2 separate regions of the Homo sapiens genome follow, and region 2 is linked to region 1. The links come from fine-mapping of genetic effects on gene expression. Tissue or cell type: pancreas. Region 1 holds a variant in brackets; the other region holds the start of a gene. All regions are shown on one strand. Distances are from middle to middle. Region 1 overlaps SH2D4A (SH2 domain containing 4A). Region 2 holds the start of SH2D4A (SH2 domain containing 4A).

What was found. PIP is the estimated chance that this variant, and not a neighbour inherited with it, causes the effect.
Region 2: SH2D4A starts here. The variant in region 1 is fine-mapped to the expression of SH2D4A in pancreas (GTEx, PIP above 0.99).

What each region holds. Positions count from the first base shown.
Region 1 is chr8:19,361,918-19,367,297 of GRCh38, forward strand. It overlaps SH2D4A (SH2 domain containing 4A), which reads left to right. Exons shown (of 10, transcript NM_022071.4): 7 at 2,155-2,365. Among named protein-coding and RNA genes, the nearest start is that of SH2D4A, 51 kb to the left of the region's middle. The variant G/A (reference allele first, on the strand shown) is at 2,272.
Region 2 is chr8:19,310,753-19,316,132 of GRCh38, forward strand. It overlaps SH2D4A (SH2 domain containing 4A), which reads left to right and starts at 2,941. Exons shown (of 10, transcript NM_022071.4): 1 at 2,941-3,071. LOC105379306 (a long non-coding RNA gene) reads left to right here. Exons shown (of 4, transcript XR_949550.3): 4 at 981-1,072.

The sequences.
Region 1 (5,380 bases):
CTTGACTCCTATTTGAGTGAGCAGAATGGGTGAGAAAACTCATAGGAGAAGAATAAGCCCATGCAACTGAAGGCAGAGGAGAGGATGCTCCAGAATGCTAGAAGAATTAGGTTTGTGAAAGAATTAGTGTTTCCATCTGACTCAGAGAAATCTGAACTGCTAGATCAACCTGAGGTGGCTTGAGGAAGACAGCAGGTATGGCTATATTTGCAGGATGTTGAGATCCTACATTGATCTGCAGTCCCATTACAACCAATGCCATTTAAATGACAACTACTGTGAAATGAAAATATTTGCAAGATCCAGTAGGCTCTTTGTACTATGCACTGAAATCCTAGCATAAGGGAATATTTTGGGTGTCTCTTTGAAGTCAAGTATAACAGGATTTGACCAATACTGCCTGAAGTGTAAATATAGTCAATAAAAATCATTTTTACATTCTGCATTTGAGTCTCATTGCTATAACAAAAAATTCTGTTTTACAAAGTAGTCATGCGCTGTATGATGTTTTGGTCAACGATGGGTCGCATATAGTTTTTAGGCCAGGCACTGTGTCTCACTCCTGTAATCCCAGCCTTTTGGGAGGCCAAGGTGGGTGGATCACTTCAGGTCATGAGTTCAAGACCAGCCTGGCCAACATGGTGAAACTCCATCTCTACTAAAAATACAAAAATTAGCTGGTTGTGGTGGCGTACACCTGTAGTCCCAGCTACTCAGGAGGCTGAGGCAGGAGAATTGCTTGAACCAGGGAGGCGGAGGTTGCAGTGAGCCGAGATCGTACCACTGCACTTCAGCCTGGGCAATGTAGCAAGACTGAGTCTCAAAAACAAAACAAAACAAAACAAAAAAAACACAGACACACACATACAGAAAACCAAAAAATAATAATAAAACCCCAAAATAATGGGTTGCATACATTTTTAAAATAAATTTTATAAATGTAGTGTAGCCTAAGTGTAAAGTGTTTACAAAGTCAACATCAGTGTGTAGTAATGTCCTAGGTCTTAACATTCACTGAGCACTCACTCACTGACTCATCCCAGAGCAACTTCCAGTCCTGCAAGCTCCATTCATGGTAAGTGCCTTATGTAGAGGCACCATTTTTTTTTGTCCTCTATACCATATTTTTACTATACCTTTGCTATGTTGGGGGTATTGATTATTTTTATTTTTTTGAGATGGAGTTTCGCTCTTGTCACCCAGGCTGGAGTGCGATGGTGTGATCTCAGTTCACTGCAACCTCCGCCTCCTGGTTTCAAGGGATTCTCCCGCCTCAGCCTCCCCAGTAGCTAGGATTACAGGCGCCTGCCACCATGCTCAGCTAATTTTTTGTATTTGTAGTAGAGTTGGGGTTTCACCATGTTGGCCAGGCTAGTCTCAAGCTCCTGACCTCAGGTGACCCACCGACCTTGGCCTCTCAAAGTGCAGGTATTACAGGTATGAGCCACTGTGCCCGGCCTTATGTTGGGGGTATTTAGACACACAAATACTCTTGTGTTACAGTTGCCTTATGATGCATTTCTCAGGATTTATTTCTCTCATTAAGTCACTAGTGACTGTAATATTAAAAGGCAGACTTGGGGTACTTTTTTGTGTACTAATGTGTCCTACAATTACCTGTGGTTAAGCATCCCTTTAATTTTTTGTCTGTCAGGTTGCTTCTCATTCTGTCCTGCTCTCTGCTCCTTCACCCTATGCACAGCCCCATGCCACTGAGTAGTCCTGATCTCTGCTAGTGAGTCAAGCACACTGCATCTGAACATAAGTCATGCAGGGCGTGACAATTGCCTCTTATTACTCAGCACCCCTGCCAGCTTGAACCCATGCTCAGGCGGGGGATCCTCACTTGGTCTTGCCAACTGCAGGAAATTCTTGCACACTTTCTCTACTTCTCTCTCATCCCTTCTTCCTCCTCTTCCTTTTCTCTCCCTCTCAGAAAACCCCCAGTCCTGTATGAAGAGAGGAATCCTGCAGCGAACGCTGGGCAAGCCCTAATGGCCTGGATCATAGGTGTTGATAATGATTGTTCCTTATTATAAGCAGACAACAAACTGCTGAGAACCTGCGCTGCTGCCCGTTGTGCAATGAATGCTGAGCCTTCTCACCTGCTCTGTGGGCTGATGAGGGTTTTCTCCGACCCCGTTGTTTTTCCAGTGCGAAAATCCAAAGCAGCTGATGAGAAGAGACGCTCCTTGGCTAAACAAGCACGAGAAGACTACAAGAGGTTATCCCTCGGGGCCCAGAAAGGAAGAGGCGGTGAGAGGCTGCAAA[G/A]CCCCTTGCGTGTTCCGCAGAAACCAGAAAGACCTCCCCTTCCACCCAAGCCTCAGTTCCTAAACTCAGGGGCATATCCTCAAAAACCTCTTAGGTAAGAAGCCACACAGATGGGTTTATGCATAAACATTGCAATGGGCTTTGAATAAGCGTTGAAATTAAAGGGGAATTGTATGAGCTGCCATGGGGTGTGGAGGGCCAACTGGCAGCCTGTGTAAGTAGCTCAGGTTCATGTCTAAGCCTTCTTCCTGGGTGATCTGGGCGGGCATTCCTCCCTTTTTTAGCTGTCAAATGTCCATAGCTGTTATACTTAGTATACCCAGTGAAATAGTAAAGCTGTGCATGGAATGAGAGAACTTCCCGTGTCCCTACCCCACTCTCCCCTTTCCCTCCCCCGCCCCCCTCCCCCCCAGAGGCAGCCGGTGAGCCAGTGAGGGGAGAAGAGGAAACAAGTGGGGTTTCACTGATGCCCAAGATCACCCTTAGTCAAAGATTATCAAAGTAGGAACCCAAAGGCTTGCTGACTTTCGTGTGATCAGTGGGAGTACATTTTCACTGCCAAGGATTAAAGGTTTGATGGTAATTCTCATTCACGGATACATAGCCAAGTTCCTCTTTTAAGAATTTGGAAAGCCTCCTTTTTTAGATGAATTGTCTATTTGGTGGTGGAGATACCATTGTCTGCTAGGCTGTGGAAGAATTAGGAAGAACCATTTGTTCTGGAAAAACTGTAGAAAAGTGCAATGATGCTATTAAACCCCCATCCCTTATGTTTGCTGATTCTAAATTTTTTTCTGGTTATTGATCTTATTTTTAACATCCTAGTATTTAGAAAGAAGTATTAAAATCAAATGTTGATTGAAAGAAACAGAATTGTCTAAAGCCTTGCATTCTGAAATAAAAACTAAAAATAATTTGAAATACTTCTCTAAGATTATGGAGAAATGAAAAATAAGACTCTTCTCCTGCTTGGAGTCGTAGTTATCTTCAAGGTTGTCTTTAAACAGGAGTGATGACCTCAGGGGAAACACAAAGGCGGATGTTTTTCTTTGCTGTAATTATTTCTACTTACTCTACTGGAAAGTTCCGTTTCGGGAAGTGGGGACCAACGTGGAACTCAGTGGAGTAAGTGGAAATAATTACAGTAAAGACCATGATCTCCAAAGTGATCGTTTGGGTAATGATTCTTCTCTTACCGACAACAAAGCAAGAAATGTAGTCAGGAAATAGGAGTCTCTTAATTGTGAGAACAGCTGACAAAGGTGCACACGGCTCTAAGTGCTGGAGCTTGTCTGTCCGCACGTTGGCGACAGAGCCTCAGCAGGGATGTTTTTGCAGCTAACTCCTGTTCACCGTCTCTTCCAAAGGTAGCATGGAAATGACTTGTAGATGTCCCTGTCCCACAGCATTTTGAAGGACAGTATATTTGATTGACAGCAATGAAGGTGGTCTTTAAAAAAGGGCAATTCCTATTTTCAGCTGTGCTCAGTTAGCTCATTTTTTCCAACTGAAGACACTGCATGAAGTGCTTTTTGTGAGTCAGACTGGGTGGTTTTAGGGCTGGGACTTGACACAGGGATGGCAGAGGTCACCTCAGAGCCACCCCAGGAAAAGACAGACCGGCTCCTACAGTGTCTGTGGAGTTTTGCTCGATCTCCAAGGACTTCCCAAAAAAGAGCCTAATTTGGAAGCTAGTAAGAGAATGTATAATATAACTTCGTATGTGTGCAGTGTCTGCCTCCCAGGGAAGTAAATATTATAGGATATTTTCTCGAAAATGCTCCGAAAATCATTAGGGATAATATATACACATACATGCATATGTACAACTATATATATATATATCTGACAGTATGTCACACGTAACTCAGAAGCACATGTTATAAAAAGCGTAAAGAACCATAAGTTGGTCAATTACAATACTAGTAGTTCATCGAAACTTGATTGTGGTGGTTGTGTTTCATAAATTGTATTTTGTTTTTAATTGACACAATAATTGTATGTATTTATGGGATACAGTGTGATGTTTTGATACATATATATATATTGTGTAGTGATCAAATCAGTATAACTCACATATGAATCACCTCAAACACTTGTCATTTCTTTGTGGTGAGAACATTCAAAATCCTATCTTTTGGCTGTTTTGAAGTATGTAGTACATTACTGTTGACTGTGGTTACCGTGCTGTGCAGTAGAGCAGCAGAACTTATTTCTGCTGTCTCACTGTAACTGCGCCAGTTGACCAACCTCTCCCTATTTACCATCCCCCCTACTCTCCCCAGCCTCTGCTAACCACTGTTCCATACTTCTATAAGATCAACCTGGCTGGGTGTGGTGGCTTATGCCTGCAATCCCAGCACTTTGAGAGGCCGAGGTGGGTGGATCATGAGGTCAGGAGTTCGAGACCAGCCCGACCAACATGGTGAAACCCCGTATTTACTAAAAATACAAAAATAAGCCTGGTGTGGCGTGCACCTGTAATTCCAGCTACACTGGAGGCTGAGGCAGGAGAATCACTTGAACCCAGGAGGCGAAGGCTGTTGTGAGCCAAGATCACACCACTGCACTCCAGCCTGGATGACAGAGTGAGACTCTGTCTCAACAACAACAAAAAAGATCAACCTTTTTGATTCCACAGAAGAGTGAGGTCATGCAGTGTTTGTCCTTCTGTGTTTGGCTTATTTCACTTAACAATGTCCTCTAGTTCATCCATTTTGTTGCAAATGACAGGACATTATTCTTTTTATGGATCTTTTGTTCTCTTTAATTTTTTTGAGGAACTTCATACCGTTGTTTATGATGGTATGCTAATTTATATTCCTACCATCAGGCAATGAGAGTTCTCCTTTCTCCAGATTCTCACCAGCAATTTTTTTTATTGCAAATGACAGGATATTATACTTTTTATGTCTGAATAATATTCTATTGTGTATATACACCACATTTTCTTGATTGATTCATTGTTGGACAACTAGGTTGATTCCATATCTTGGCTATTGTGAATAGTGCTGCAATAAACATGGGAGTGCAAGTATCTCTTTGACATACTGATTTCATTTCCTTTTGACGTAGACCCAGTAGTGGGATTGTTGGAGCTTTTGTTCTA
Region 2 (5,380 bases), 51 kb before region 1:
ATTAATCTTTATCTCAGAAAAAGTGCAAAGTGGCTTATCCTGTCTTTCTGGCAACAATAGGGCTGGCAGTGTTGCACAACTCCAGGGGGCGCCTTACACATAGTGATCTCTGTGCTTGTCCCCTGCCCACCCACAGTTGTACAAGGGCCATGCTATGCCATTTTACTTGACAGCCCTGGGCAGCAGGGCTCCTAAGCAACAGTCCAAAAGGAAGGCCAAGGAACACATCCATTAAAATGTAGGCTATTTGTTTCATGGTATTCATTACCACGAATAAATGACAAATTAAAAATATTAGTAACCAATAAATAGATGTTTAGCTTTCTCTTTAAGTTCTGGCAGTGAACGCTGCAGCAGAGCATTCCTGAACACATGTTGGTGCTACCATGTTCCATGTCTGTGACTCGTCAGTGGCCAGCCCCTGTCAGCAGTCTTCCCCACATTCGTCCCTATAACACATCCTAGATCATGGAGGGGGGAAATGTTTTCCTCTGAGAGTACTGGCCCAAAGGGAGGGAAAAAGTAACTGAAGGCCCCACAAGTAATAGGCCACCTGATTTTTTTTTAGAGCATTATAAAACATTCTTGGCCAGGCGCAGTGGCTCACGCATGTAACCCAGCACTTTGGGGGGCCAAGGTAGGCAGATCACCTGAGGTAAGGAGTTTGAGACCAGCCTGGCCAACATGGTCAAACTTAGTCTCTACTAAAAAACAAACAAACAAAAAAAAAAAACAAAAACAAAATACAAAGTTAGCCAGTTGTGGTGACAGGTGCCTATAATCCTAGCTACTTGGGAGGCTGAGGCAGGAGAATCACTTGAACTCAGGAGGCCGAGGTTGCAGTGAACCAAGATTGCATCACTGCACTCCAAGCCTGGGCAAAAAGAGTGAAACTCCATCTCAAAAAAAAAAAAAAAAAAAAAAATTCGAATTGTCTACTTTTGAAATTAAGGGAAAAACATCTACCTTTTCTCTTCCAGACCATGCCAATTAAAAGAGGAAATTCCAGGAGTCAGCAGAAAGGAAACAAAAAGAGAAGGTGATAGAGGAGAGGGGAGACCAAGTGAAGAGGATGGAGAAGAAACTATAAAAATAAGAGAAGAAGAAGAGTTCATGGCAAATATAGGAAAGAGCCACGAGACAAGAAGGATGGAAATGGGCAGATGAGAGAAAAGGGAAGAGAGTCTGGGTTCTGAGTTGTTTGCATTATTTGTGTACAGCGTGCGTTCCTTTGGGCTGTCAATATTATTTCAAGATAGAAGCACCAAGGTGTTTCCTTACCTAATCTCTGAAGTGGCAGACCATCATCACTTCTGCCGGGTTCTATTGGTCAAGCATACCAACCTTTACAAAGTGGCAGGGAGCTATGCAAGGATGTGAATACCAGGAGGATAGGATCCCTGGGAATGACTTGGAAGGTAGGTGGCATGGTGGGCAGAACCCACAGCCTAGGGTGAGATGGCAGGAATGTGGAATTCCAGTACCTTAATGTGATATGAACTGATCTGAGTGAATGTGTTTGAACACTCACCACATGCCAAGAGCTCTTCTAATCTCTTTGCATGTAGCATCTCATTTAACCCTCTTGACAACTTACCGAGGCAGACACTCTTTATCTAGAGGAGGAAAGTGAGGTACAGAGGTTAGTAGCACAGTGATAAAGCTGTTATAAGGAAGGACTTGCCAGGACCTGGAGAGAGACTGGGTGTGAGGAAGGTAGGCTGTCACAGTGTCCTGTGGGATTTTTCCTAACTGATAAACCACCCTGTATGGTTCAACTGATGCATCCATGCAGGGCTAGGATTCATTCTGACCTCGTCATAGCAGCTTTCCAGGGGCCAATCCCACTCCAGCCTAAAGCACCCCATATGCTATCATTTAAACTGCAGTAGGAACTAAGCCTTACACCAGAAATTCCTCCCTGATGGGATTCCTGGAATTGTTCCTAAATAGCTGGGTCTTATTTCCTGACAATGCCGCCTGCCCCGAGGCTTGATGTAACTCTGCACAGCTTCTGCAGTTTGGAGAGGCAGGGAAATGCCATTTTGTGTTTGAATCCAGCAGGTCAGGCTCCTAAAGAGGTCAGGTAGTCCGTGGAGAGGACTACTGGTGTTTACTGTTTATTACATCTCTCCCAATACACAAAATCTGGGGTTCACCAAAGCAGGCGGTTTTCTTCCACATGCTCCTCTAGGATGGAAAATGCCCTCCAGTGGAAATGCCTTTCCACTGTGCTTCTGCTCAATTTTCCTCCAAGATTTCCTCTAACTGTGGACTGCCAGCTCCTCCCTGACGTCTTCAGGCACCAAGCCAACCTGTTCTTGTTGCAATCCTCAAGACTCCTTTCAGCATCTTAACTTTTCCCCCAGTTTTCTTTCATTTTCTCCACCTGTCTGTGTTGACTGCGGTCTCCTTCCTTCCAGCCTTTTCCTTCCTTCATCTTGTCCTACAAAGCCACACGTGTACCGACAAGTGCCAAAGAGTTTGATCATTTACTTAATGTCAACAAAAGAAAAAAAAAAAAAGCTCCAGAGTCGCCTTGGCCTGCAGCACCCAAGCAGAGTGAACAAGTGGGGCCTGCGCACCCTCCTACCCTACACCTAGCAAGGAACCCCGAGCTCTGAAACGTGGAAAGGCCCAGATCTGCAGATTTAATCTAAGTCCTGCAGTCCCCAAGAGATCACAGACTGCAGATCCCTGTCTCATGAACTAAGAGAGGAGAGGACAAGCCTACCCCGGACTACCGCAGCTCGGGGACAGCGCGCGGGCCAGGCGGCCCGAGATGCGCAGGCCACGCAGCCTCGCCGACGAGTGGCCCTGGAGAGCCTCCAGGCGCCCGGGTGGGGCCGCGATTGCGCCCCGCCAGTCACCCCGGCATGTGGGCGCGGCGGGGCGGCGCGGGCGGGACGGCTACAAGAGCTGTTTTGCGTCCGGGCCGGAGTATTTGCTCAGCCCGCCTGCGCCGCTTGGGACGCCTCTGCCTTTCCCTCCCTCCCTTCCCCGACGGCTTCTGGCGGCCAAGTGGATGTGGCGGGTGATCGAGCCACCCTGCCCAGGGGCGCCCAGCACTGGTAGGTGCTGGGGGTGGGGCGAGGCTTTGGGGAGAGTGTGCGTGGGGTGGGAGTAGGGGGAAGGGAATTTCCTCGGAGGTTGCATGGGTGCATGGGAGGCGCAGGGGCCAGAGCGGGCGGGCGGAAGCCTCACCCCCGCCTCCACCCCTTCGCGGCGCCCGGGGCGGGCTCAGGTGCGGGGTTGGGCGGCGAGAGCGGCCGCGGCGGGTGTCCGGTGTCCGGTGTCCGGTGTCCGGTGTCTGGAGCCGCTGGCTAGGTGAGCGGCGGTCCCCGGGGCCTGGGGGCTTGCAGGGGGTGGCGGGGGAACTTCGAGGGAGAGGGTCTGCCGGGGCTGAGGACCTTCGGGGAAGTTCTGGAATCCGGCAGGGACACGCGGCGCGTGCTTCCACCCGCGGGGAGTGCAGGCCCCGGGAGGGTCCGGGCTGGCCTAGAGTTTCTAGACTCCTAGCAGGAGCACGTCCTCGACTTGCGCATGGAAATCTTCCAGGAGGGAAGTCCCGGGAAACGGTGGCAGCTGGCGCAGCACCCCCGCAGCACGTTCCCCGCGCACCGGCACCCAGGGGCGCCCCCACGTGGGGTCTGGGAGCGCGCGGAGGCCAGTGCAGCGCCGCCTCCCTCGGGCTGCAGCGGCGGGGCTGGCCCAGACCCAGACCGGGTGCCCAGTGCGCTCAGCCAAGCGGCGCCCCTGCCCGCTCCTGGACTCGGGGGTCACGCGGGCACCGGAAGGAGCTACAGTTTGTAGGTTTTCTGAGTTGTCTCTCCCTTCCCAGGGAGCTTAGAGAAGCAGCAAGCGTGGCACCTCCCCCTTTCAAACAGATGCTCCTCATCGCTCCAAAGGCTTTCGTTTGATTGCTGGTTTAATAGAAACAACGACTTGGGTACGATTATTTTAAAATAGTGAATAAATAAGTGGAAAGCATACAGGGGCATAGATTTGGCATATGAGTGGAATTCTCTATGTATACTAAATCTGTGTGTACAGTAATCTCAAATTTCTGAAGAATAGTATATATTTACAAACTGCTGTCATCTCTGGTAATTTGTTTCATCCTCAAAAACAGCCCTTTTGCTGGTAGATGAATAAGATAAAGTTTCAATAAGAAAACAAAGTTGGACCACAGAGCTGGCTGTTTTAAAAGAATTAGAATTCAAACTGTATTGTTAATGTTATAGTTACACTGTCCATACCACAATACTTTTATTTATTTTTTATTTTATTAGGTCGGTGCAAAAGTAATTGCGGTTTTTACGTAAAAAAAACCGCAGTTACTTTTTTTTTGGCCATGTAAAACACAATAACTTTTGCACCGACCTAATGTTTTTAATTTTTGAGACAGGGTCTCCTTCTGTCACCCAGGCTGTGGTGCAGTGGTGCGATCTCGGCTCACTGTAGCCTCAAACTCTCCAACTCAAGAGATCCCCCCACCTCAACCTCCCAAGTAGGTGGGACTATAGGTGCGGGCCACCACGCCTGGCTAATTTTTATACTTTATGTAGAGACGGAGTTTTGCCATGTTGCCCAAGCAGGTCTTGAACTCCTGAGCTCCAGCAATCCACCCATGTCCACCTCCCAAAGTGTTGGGATTACATGTAGAACCACTGTGCCCGCCTACTATTTTTATGATTTAGCCTGTATCTAAGGCCTTTTAAAATTGTATTTTGTTTAGGTCTCAGAGTTATTCAAAAGACAGTTGTATTGTAGAACAGTGTGAAGGTGTGAGAATCAGGCCAAATCTATGGTATCATGGAAAACAACGGATTCTCTGACCTTTTAGCAATTGGTGTTCAGAATAAATAGCAGGTGTGGGCTTGTTGCTTATCATTTCTCTCTTTTAAGAAAGGGGCTGTGTTAGCTGAGCTATTCCTTTGTTGGATCTTGAATAACCGGAGATTTGCTGCCCTTGATATAGTATGGGAAAGTCCTCTGAGTTTGAATCAGTATCAGCAATGATTACTTCCTTGTCAGGGAGTGAAAGTAGGAAAGCCCTAGTTAGTTAATTTCCTGATTTCTATTTCTTCTACCCTGGCTCCACCAGGCTCCTTCGCTTCACAGTAGATTATGTCAGATACCCACACATTAGAAGTCACAGACTGAACCAGTCCTCGTTTCACAGATGAGGAAACTGAGTCCCAAGGAGGTGAGGTGACAGCACAGAGTCACACCGCTCACTAGAGGCGGAGCTGGGAGTTGAGGCTGGAGTGCCTCTGGGTGTCTTGGGTGTACTGTGCTGAGCTTGAGTTGGGGTCTGAGAAAGCCTTGGAGCGGGGGTTAGGGGTTGGGAATTAGAGGGTGAGGGGGACAGGTGATT